Linked DNA regions of Homo sapiens: region 2 is linked to region 1. Evidence: fine-mapped expression QTL. A gene starts in region 1. The other region holds a variant in brackets. All regions are shown on one strand. Distances are between the middles of the regions. Region 1 holds the start of LINC01465 (long intergenic non-protein coding RNA 1465). Region 2 overlaps PPM1H (protein phosphatase, Mg2+/Mn2+ dependent 1H).

Region 1 (5,376 bases):
GGTGTTAGCACTGTTAAAAACATTATGGAAAGGAATGTAAGTGATAAAGTAGTATAATGACTAAATTTAGTTGGAAACTACTGCTGTAACAAATCTGTATACCATAGACCAAACAGGTGTTTAGTGGCCATTTAAAAATCTGTGCCATTATGGCAAAGGACATTTGCTTTGGTACAGAATAATCTGATCCACTGCGCAGTCAATGAGCAGTGAGGGTTGATTCCCATGGCAGTCCAATCTTTGCTTATCAAGGAAGGATGGTGTGAAGTTTCTACAGACTTTCTGGTAAGTGATTGATAGATGAGTTTATGGTGTGATTGAGTTTTTGCTTTGAGTTTATGCTTAGTGATTGATAGGTGAGTTTATGCTTTGTCAGGTAAAGCATTTAACTGCAAATGTATTATGTTTACACAAATATTCTTAATTGGAAATAGTTTCTGAATATGCACCTAAAAATGTTCTTATGAAATATGTCAGGCAGGCTGATTTTTAACTTGAAAACTTCTACTTTAAGAAATTGTTTGGGTCCCATCGCCTATACCATGTAGAATAGAAACAAAAAGCCAGTTATTTAATTTTTAATTTGCAATTAAACTCTTGGCCAAGAGGATCTGTTGTCCAAAATTACATCGTGATAGCTTAAGAAAAAAAAAATCTTACTTTGCCAGAAAGGGAATTATACAAGGATATCTTTATGAGTTGCTGCCAAATTTTGTTCTAGACCACGGCCCTCTGGCCTCCATGAAGGATCAAAGTCTGGGCAAAGACAATTCTAAGTTGTAGGTAAACATGCTTTTCATTTCCCTCCATTCCTTACTTTTGTCATAAGCAGTCTGGATTTTCAGGGGTAAAGGCTGATAGGGTTGCCAGATACAGTCATTAAAAATTGAGAATGTGCAGTTAAATTGGAATATCAGATAAACAATTTTAAAAATATATGTAACACACATATGCCAAAACACTGGTTATCTGAAATTCCAATTTAACTGGGCGTCCTGTATTTTATCTGACAAGCCCTAACTACTTCTTTAAAATAATTTGTTAACTTCCTACAAAAAATCTCTAAATGGGAGGAAAAAAAAAATCCCGTAAGTTGTCTGGGCCAAAAGCAGAAGTGGCTCCATGGCAGTCAGCCTTCTCCCTAACTTGGCTTAAAAAGAAAAAGCCAAAACCAGAAGTCCCAAAAGCTTGCGTTTAAAGCGGGCTGTGCCGCAGCTTTCCCGCCTGTTTTCTGCGGAATGTAGCACGGCAGCCACCCCGCGTGGGTGGGGCTCGTATGGTTGTGTCCTTGCTGGTTGGGAAAGGAGGTGCCGGAAACTTCAAACCACGGCCAGGGTACAACGTGTCCGCTTAGGCGGCGATATGCGCCGCCATCTTCTTTGCGGGCAAAGGCCGAAAAAAGTTTGGGACTCCACTCCCCCCCGCTGAGCCGATGGAGGGCATCGCCCGCTGCCTCAGCACTCTGGTGACGTGGAATCGGGGTCCCCTCTTTCAGGGCTGATTTCTGGTAGCACGCTGACGCCTGCCAAGGCAGGGAAAGGGGACGCCGCCTCTGTCCCGGATGTAAGATGGCGGCGCGGGGGGCGGCCTGGCGGGGCGGTCACGTGGTGAGGAGTAGCGCGCGAGCCTCCTTAAGTGATCTCTAAGGTTCGTCCGGACGCACAGGAGCAGCGGAGCGCGAGACGGGTCTTGTGTCCGCACGCGTCGAGTCGTCGCAGTCGCCACCCGGGCCATCGCCGGGCCCGGTTTCACTGTTAAGGGGTTTTCGTTTGTTCCGTTTTCGCCTCCTGTAGAGCTGAACGGGAATTCCCCGAAGGGTGCTGGGGAACGGGTGGCCTGGGGACTTCCCGGCTATGCCTTGGCTGCTGTTTGGCGGAGCCGGCGGCAGCCTCTGCGGGATGCCCGCCGGCGATTATCGGCGCCGAGAGCGGGCCGGCGGCGGGTTCGACAGCGCGGCGCGGGTGGGGGCCCGGGTACCGGACTCGGCCGCAGCCCAGCCCCCACCGGGGACTCGGAGCAGGGAGGGGCGCGAGCGGCGCAGCTCGGGACGTGGCGGCAGCTCCTAGCGGGCGAAGCGCGGGAGCGCTGCTCGCTGCCTCTCGGGGGCAGTCCAGAACCAGTTGGTGTCTGACTGCGCTTTTGCCGCCCATTTCCTGCTTTCGAGCGGCTGAGGCGACGCGCTCCCCTCGGGCAGTGGAGGGAGCGGCTCTCTCCGCAGGACACCGCCGCTTTTCTCTCTTCAGAGCGGTGGCTGACGTACAGAACGCCGGCTGTATCACCCGGGCGCCGGCGCCGCCTCTCATCCCCGTAGCTCTCGGGGCGCGCCGGGAGTAGCCGAGCCGCTGGGTGCTGGGCGGGGTCTCCGGGCGCGGCGCGGGGGGAAGGCAAAGGAAAAGAAGGGGCGGCGGGCCGACGTCGGCGGCGAGGAAGGACGGAGGAGCGCCGGAGCCGCTTTGCTGCCCTCCGCGTGGTCCCGTGCCTCCCCGACACCATGGCCCTGGCTGAGGTAGTAGTTTGTGCTGTTGGTCGGGTTGTGACATTGCCCGCTGTGGAGATAACTGCGCAAGCTACTGCCTTGCTAGTGCTGGTGATGCTCAGCGCCGCGGAGGACAATGGCTGGGAATCCCCTTTGTTTTCCGGGGCGCTGCCTGGGGACAGCCCGCGAAGCCTCGGCGCCCGGCCGGCGCGGCCACCACGGAAACCGTTAGTTTCACATTTTCCTAGAAGGAATTGAGGGGAGTGGGGTGGACCGCGATGCATTTTAAAGGTTGGGAAAGAGCTAAGCCATTGGATTCCTTTTCTTGAAGGAAGGAGTGGAATTGTGTAAGATAATTGATACAGATAACTTTTTCACCCTAAAAAATTCTAACACTTCTTTCAGCAGTTAAATGCCAAATTTAGTGTGTACCTGTTTTACTTCATTCTTTAGCTGTAGGTTGGAGTGGTGTGAGCGATCTGCAGAACTGGCATTAGAGGGGCAGAAGAAGTAGACCTGATAATTAAAGTTTATGCCTTAACATTTTAGATCTGGTTTCTGATATGCTCTCTTAGTAAATCTGAGTGTGTCTTTAAAAACGTAAACCCAAAGCAATTTAAAGTTTCTCTTTAAACTTTGCAACTCGCGAATGAGAAGATTGAAATTATTTGTAGGTAATTGCACTATTCCGATTTTTTAATGTATGAGGCAAACAAATAAATTCTATGTACAGTGTGCTGTGAATGGTTTTGTTTTTTGTTTTTTCTTTTTAGTTTAACCTTGGGGCTCAGATTCTGCTGGTGTGGTGGGTTGGTTTTTTGGTTTTTATGGCCTTTGATTCTAATGTTATGTGGTACTTACATCTTTGAGGTTTTGTATGGGAGAAGAGGACTAGGAATTGAAAGTGGTTTCTAGATTTGAGTTTAAAATCTACTAACACTCATTTTGATTCCTGAGTGGCCACTACTCCTAATAGGAAAATACCTTTGCATAGAGAAAAAAGGTAGTTTGGATAACTAATGAAAATACTCAGTGCTCTAATACCCTGAAGTCTGCGTGGAAAACAAGATACTTGTATTTTTATTTTATTTTCACTGAGGGAAGTAAGTGGTCAGTTTTAGTACTTTTCGTTGAAAACTGATCTGTATTTGTACAGAATAAGTAGTTTTGAATATAATGTAATCGCAGTTTTCTATGGTTTTCTGATGCTCAGTTGAAAAACAAATAAGGCAGTTCTTTAAACCAACCAAACCCTTCAGCAGGAGTTTGATGCTTTTATCATTCAAAAGTGATCTAATATATGTGCCTTGATTGGGTTTGGTTTAGCCTTGAGAATAACCTTACTTAATCTGATCTCATCAGGATGGAGCCGCCTCATTGTGGGAAGGGCGGTGAAGAACCTTATCTTGAATCTTAAGATGCAGAAAATGCTTGAATGTTGGCTCTTGAAGTTTGCTTTTCTTGATAGCAACGCAGAGTAAATTCAGGGCTTTGTTAAGTGCTTGTTTTCTTAAATAATGAAAACCTCTGCGGTGCTGTGTCAAATCTTGGTTTATGGAGAAACTAATCATAACATGCTAATTTCATTATGATTTTATTTTCCAAAACACTTCATTCAACCAACCGAGGTAATCTTCCAACCCACTACACTCTAACATTTTTATGGAGAATCAACGGTTGTTAATCTGCACCCCAAAGTATAACAAATTCTGCTGGTAATTTAAACTTTAAGCGGATAAGCACACCAGAAATGCTCAATGTCCTATACAGATAAACTATTCATACTTTATATCTTGTGTTTTTAAAGTAAATTTTATCCACAACTACATATTGCCCAAATAGTAGTAACATTTTTGAGTTATTGGATGTAAAGGTACTTTGAGAGGTTAACTGTTTCCTAAGTTACAAGAGAAAATACTGCCACCAGCTGACTTGTTTTAATCCCATAGCTATATTTCTGCTCTAATCTCCAGTTTTAAAAATGATCTGCTAATTACATTTCTCTACACACCAACTGAAAATTACCAACTGAACATTTTCCTTGTTGACAGTTTCCCACAAGATGAATTTGATTTATCAAAAATACAGCTTTCTGAACTTAGTATTATTGACATTTACTTGGTGCAGTTAACTTTTTTGTTAAAGGTCTGTTGTCAAGCATTTAAGTAATTTGTAGTTGTAAAAAGCCACTGGTGGAAAGTAATAAGGCAGTATTTTGAGTGCCCTTCTCAATAAGTACATACTAAACCAAAGGAAAGCTGGGTTATGGTAATAACATTTTAATAAATGTCATCCTCAATTGGAAATGGAGACTGTGTTATGGTATATAGGACACACCATATGGAGAAGATTCTTGGAGAACACAGTTTTGCTTCATACTTTAAAATTCCTGATTGCTAATCTTACATAGAAAAGCTTTGTTTACAAGCTATTTTAAAATAACCTTTTGGCAGGTAGGCAAGACTGACTGGCAAGGGTGCACTCAAGACATTGTGTCTTGTGGAGTGGTCCCCAAAGAATTCCTGACAGAGGCACCTGACAGCACAAATTAGCTCTTCAGTGTATAAGCACAAAGCACCAAAAAGGCTGAGATTTCTTCCTAGCTACATGCTCTCTCCCGCTATTGTTTATTACACTCCACCCGCTCCATGGTGAAGCTGACAAAGGAGATACTATTAATTTCCTTTCCCACTGAATAATCCCCTCTGTAATTTCTACAACAAAAGGTAAATAGGACAATCATCTTCGAAAATGAATTAGGCCAGATTGGTAGTACCCAAAAGGAGAATTAATGACCATTGTCATAAACTCTGAAAAGCTGTTGGCGCTACTGATAATCTAGATAATTAAGCAAAAATTTGAAAATTATTTCTAAGATTGTCTAATGAAGTTCACTAAGT
Region 2 (5,376 bases), 42 kb after region 1:
CCCATGCTGGTCTTGAACGCTTGGGCTCAAGCAATCCTCCCCGCTTGGCCTCCCAAAGTGCTGGGATTACAGGCATGAGCCACCATGCCTGGTCATTTAAAATATTTTGTTGGTATTTTATAGATTACTTTTAACTTCCTGGATTTTAGAACTAAGCAGAATTAGCATGCTCTGATGCCTTATCCCACCTGTCACAGTAACTTTCCTCTATAAGATGGTACATTTTACTAACCCTTTGTAAGTACATACTTAAAATGCTTAAGCGATGAAGGGAAGTCTGGATTCTTACTGTCTTCAGCAAGATTAGGCTCTAGCCCTCTCACTTAAGAATACCTCTTGGGAGTAATTCTTTTCTCTGAATTATTCATGTGTTTACTAATGGTATCCATGGTAATAATGGTATCCAAAGGCATAGTTGAAATGTATTAGCCTTTACTGTTATTCCTGTGAAGGCTTATAGTGTTGGCATCCATTCCCTCTGGATTTCGAGTCTGTGTTCACAGTTGATAATCTCACATTGAGCCATGATACTCTTTGTATCATTATCATTACCTGATATAAAGAAACCAGACAGACCATTACCTGATACAAAGAAACTTCACAGTGAATTCATAGAAAAGACAGAAAAAAGTTTTGCTGAATATGTCGTATATACATATATATAATATTTTATTTTAAAATGTCATTGAACATATACATTTCTTTAGCTTTTTCCAGGGGACATTGCACCTAAGTTTCAAAACACACAAAATAGATCCCCTTTACTAAACAGTTTTCATTTTGGGGTTACAAAAAAGTCAATGTTTCACAATCACAAAGCATAAAGGTACATGGTTCTGAAACAATTTCCAGGCAGATTTCTCTCATTCACTGTACTAGGGTAGTTTTGGAAACCCAGACCATGATCCATTCCTTACAAATGATCTCCACCATGGGCCTCCCTGGGTCTCCAGAAAAAAAACAAAGAAAACTGGGGGCAAAACAGGAGTAAAATAATAACCTCAGGACTCAGGAAACAAACACAAAATACTTGTGGGAGATCAGAAAAGTAGAGGACACAGGTTCTCCTTCAAGTACATCACAGTAGAAAACTACAGCACATTTACAGCCTTATTTGGTCACTGTCTACCTGGTTGCTACATGAACAAAACTTCACCTAAGACACAGAAGAAAAATTAAAGCTATTTACACAGATAACACTGTGGATTCGAAAGAGCAGTCCTCTGCAGACCGGCACTCCATCTGACAAAAGCCACAGTGCTCACAGAAGAGGCAAGTCAGTCTGCTCGCGTAGCGTCCTTTGAAAAATCCCAGTGTACAAACATGTGCCACGTCACCACACAAAACCAAAGTCTGCTCAGAGAGGTGGGCTATGGTGTGCAGGCTGCAACCTTTCTCTGCAATTGTTAAGTCTTCAAAAATCTGAGTTCCTCACATAAAATTCTGTGCTGTGGCCAGAGCTCGTTTTACCATTTTCTTAGATTGGATCACTTTTAGGATCAGCTTCGTTGTTCTTTGCGTAGACAATGACTCTCACAGCTTTCTCCAAGTGTCCCAGAAGCACTAACTTACTGAAAATAGAATCTCATCAAAGCTTAACATATTCACTCTGAAAACAGCGGAGCTGCTGGGTCGCTTAAGGAAAGCTGAGAACCTCAAACCTGTGGAAGGAAAACCAGTGACCACTTGTGGCCTTATAAAGTTGATTGGCAGGTGAGGAAGGGGATCTCAAGAGGAGAATCCGAATTTCAAAGACATGGGAGATTTGTCCCTAATGTTTTCATACTAGTGCTCTTGTTAAATGGAAAACCCTTCCTGAATGGGGAAGATCTGAGGCTAAATCTGGATCCTGGGACTCTCATTCTTGCCCACCACCATCTCCCTGTGGCTGTCATTCTTCCCTGGAAGTGAATGAATACTGAGAACACAGTAAGAGGAGGGTGGTCACAGCTGACTTCACAAAGCCTCATGGAGGTTAAGTTGTTCAAGAATTTAAAAAGTAAACACCCCAAATCCTCCAAAATGGAATACTGTGGAAAATAACTGAAATTTCCACTGCTTAAGGCTTCATCCTATTAAGACAGCTGAGTACTTGGCCTGGCCCGATTTTCACCTTTCCTTTTACACCTCAAGAACAGCAGATAGGTATGCATAACCACAGCAGAACACACCCTCCACCTCTCTGACTGCTGACACTGGCTACAGGAATAAGGCTTTGGTTATCATCTAGCAAAATGCCACAGAGCATGGACGGACTGAGTTTGTTCTAAGGAAAGGAGTTTCACCAGATAGTCTGAAGAGGCCCAGCCCAGCAAAGAGATTTAGAGCAGGAAAGCCTTTCATTAAAGTAGCCACACACCCCTCGAGACAACCATAAAGACTTGACTAGGAAATCAAAAGGTTTTTATTAAACAAGACTTCCTCTGAGGCTATTCGAGCAAGCAGATTTGGCTATAAGTCAGATACGCAAGATTTCTGAACCATGTATAAATACGTTCTGCAGAATTTCGAAGTGTGCGTCCTTTGACTTTTCCAGGGATGCACCAGGGGCCAACCCGTTATGTAGACACGGTTACTGTTTTAGGACTGGGTGACATGGGGCCTGGGTAAAAAAATAAGGCCAAAACTGAGTAAGCTCAATTTATAGAGCAATATCAGTGCTGGACAGATCTGCCATGCTTCGTTTACATCATGTTTCCTACTTTTGATTTCTTCATCTTATTTATAGTCTTCCTCCCATCCCCTGAACACAAACTTGACTTTATCTTCTAACTAAGATCTTTCCACTCAAGGGGGCGTAGGAAAACAATTCCTGGATGCCTTTCTAACTAAAACCAGCAGGACTAAGTGCTCAAGATTTTATAATATTTCGATTTAGAGGTTTCTAGAGTTATTCCTGAGACGTGCCATAGCAGTAAATGAATTGGTGAATTGAGTAGAAGGTAGTTGTGACATCTACACCCAAATTCTTACTCTGGTGGCTTGAATAAAACTGGAGAAGCTCAAGGTAGGGCCCAGATAGAGGCCCAGGAAAGCAAATAAATGAAAGACGGTGGGGACACAGGAAGGATCCCAAAGACGGCAGCTCAG[G/T]GTCCTCCACGGAAGACTTGCTCAGGTTTCCTACTTACACATGACTCTGAGTGCCAGGGCAGAACAGGGAGTGGACCACACTGCTGTCACATGCCCGAAGGTTTTCCTACAGCATCAGACTCTGCCACGAAGCAAAGCATTTTCCACAAACTTCTCTCCATAGAGATATCTGGGGTAGCTAAGATCTACTGCAGGAGGAAGAAACGTGCTGCAGATGAAGACAACTCCTGACAAGGCCGAAGTCCCATTCTTCCCAGGCCAACACTTGCACAAACACCTGGTGGCGTGAATTCCCACAGTATTTCACCTGCCAGACGGCACTGTCTCCACACCCTGGAATGAGTTCTTTCCTGAGCAGGAGGGGCTCCAGGCCTTTTCGAATACAATACCGACAACTCCAGAAATGCAGGTGATTTACTGCCCTGGAGGAGAGGTTCCTATCCTCTCCTCTGGGAAGAAATTCAAACAAATATGAGAACTGGAATTAGCTCTCTAGCATGCTGGGGGGGTCACGTCAGTGACCTTTTTTCCTTTTTGGGTCAGAAGAGTGTTTTAATTACTCAAAGTTGTCAAAATGGTGGCAATACCTCAGTAGCTCAGCAGGAAGAAGACTAGGTAATTTTGTGGCCGTACAAGTCTGCCTAAGAGACAGAAGTGAGTTTTATAATCTACTTGGCCATTCCTCCCAGCAGAGAAGCAGCAGGTAGATATGGCATGCACTGTGCCTGCTGCTGCTGCTCTTGTGGCGAACACTCAGATGTGGAACCATAGAGGGACCTTGAGGAGCTGGGACATGATTCTTTAGAGAAGAGAAGAGACAGGGAGCACAGCATGAGAATGGCCAGTCAACCCATTTCAAATTCTTTTATTAAAGTGCCCCCCGAGGGGCCTTGCACAAAGATGATGGGGAGAGCAGAACTGCTGCTCCTTGACAGAACTCTGATCCTTACACTTTGTTTGGAGTGGGCTTGGGGACAGTCACAAGCCATGAAACATGAATCCAAAATGGTCCCCAGATGAGCCATGGTGAACCAACAGATGCAAGCAACTTCTTAAACTGCTCTATTAAACACTGCTTTATATGTGTCCCCATGATACAGAAAAGTGGGATGGGGCCAGCCATTCCAGAAATGAAAATCCAGACTCTCACAGAGAACCCTTGAGCCACACAGGAAGACCACTGAAGACAACAGAGGAACTACTGGTCCACAGAAACACTCAGTTTCATGAAAACACACTGATTCGGTTAGAAAATGCAACTTGGGAACAAACATTACACAACAAAGACCCTCTGTCATGCAGGGCACTGGCCCGGATGCTGCCTGGGCTGTGTGGGCTGGAGGAGGTGGGGACAACCCAGCCTGGGTGGGACTTGGACACAGAACTTCCTTAGCAGGGTGTTGGAAAGTCCCAGGCCTGTTCTGTGGAAGGGGAATAAAAAACAGATTCAAGGAATGTCAAAAACACGAAAAAAAAAAAAAAAAATCCCTGCCTCACTCCACCACTGCCATAAAAGAATAGAAACAGAGAAGAAAAAAAGAGAAGGGGGGCGGGGGGCAGACGGCAATCCCTGAAATAAACCTCAGGCTTCCTAGAAGGTGGGCACTTACTTACATTTTGAGGCATGACCCCCTACTTTCCAATGCAGCACTTTTTAACCCGTAGATAAGCTGGCAGCTTGACAGGCTGAAGAGTCCTCTGCCATTTACACCTGAAAATGGCTGCCCCAGCTACTCTAGATAAAATAAATATGACATATATACCCCAAATAGTCAATGGCCACCTCGGAGGCCTATGAAAGGAACTGAAATACAACAACACTTGGTAGCAGCCTTTGTGTTTTGCTCTTGTTGAGTTGACCTGTTACTAAAGAAGAAATGGAAACCAAAGGGTCATCTTGAAGCATAGTCTTTTGGCCATGAACTCCCCGCTTGGGCTGGGAAGAGACTGCATCACTTGGAACTCAGCTGGGGCACTTCCCAGTTCCGTCCTGCCAAGAGGCATCCCAGCTTTCTTCCCCTCTGTCCTCCCAATCCCCTGGGCCATTTTCATGACAGCTTGTTTCCATGTATTAAAGGAATGACATATACAGAAATGTCGTCTCCTGAGCCCAGTCGGTCATTAGATATCCGCCATCCTCTGTCCTTCAGCACACCCCGGGCACGCATCACCAGGTCCTGAGCTGCCAGTGTGTACCTACACAGGAGAACCAGGAACGAGACAGTCAGTAGAGCATCAGACAGAAGCCAGGGTCAAGTGAGGCTGGGAAGGGGGAGGCATCACTAC

The links. PIP is the estimated chance that this variant, and not a neighbour inherited with it, causes the effect.
Region 2: its variant is the best candidate, but not a certain one, in a credible set for the expression of LINC01465 in testis (GTEx, PIP 0.74).

What each region holds. Positions count from the first base shown.
Region 1 is chr12:62,601,189-62,606,564 of GRCh38, forward strand. LINC01465 (long intergenic non-protein coding RNA 1465) reads right to left here and starts at 2,246. Exons shown (of 1, transcript NR_121682.1): 1 at 563-2,246. MIRLET7IHG (MIRLET7I host gene) reads left to right here and starts at 1,555. Exons shown (of 2, transcript NR_186001.1): 1 at 1,555-1,647. MIRLET7I (microRNA let-7i) reads left to right here and starts at 2,498; the gene lies at 2,498-2,581. RefSeq lists enhancers at 849-1,372, 1,373-1,894, 1,409-1,518, 1,599-1,788, 1,895-2,416 and 1 more and silencers at 1,869-2,178, 2,269-2,568.
Region 2 is chr12:62,643,351-62,648,726 of GRCh38, forward strand. PPM1H (protein phosphatase, Mg2+/Mn2+ dependent 1H) reads right to left here. Exons shown (of 10, transcript NM_020700.2): 10 at 644-5,286. The coding sequence ends at 5,139. Among named protein-coding and RNA genes, the nearest start is that of MIRLET7I, 42 kb to the left of the region's middle. The variant G/T (reference allele first, on the strand shown) is at 3,091.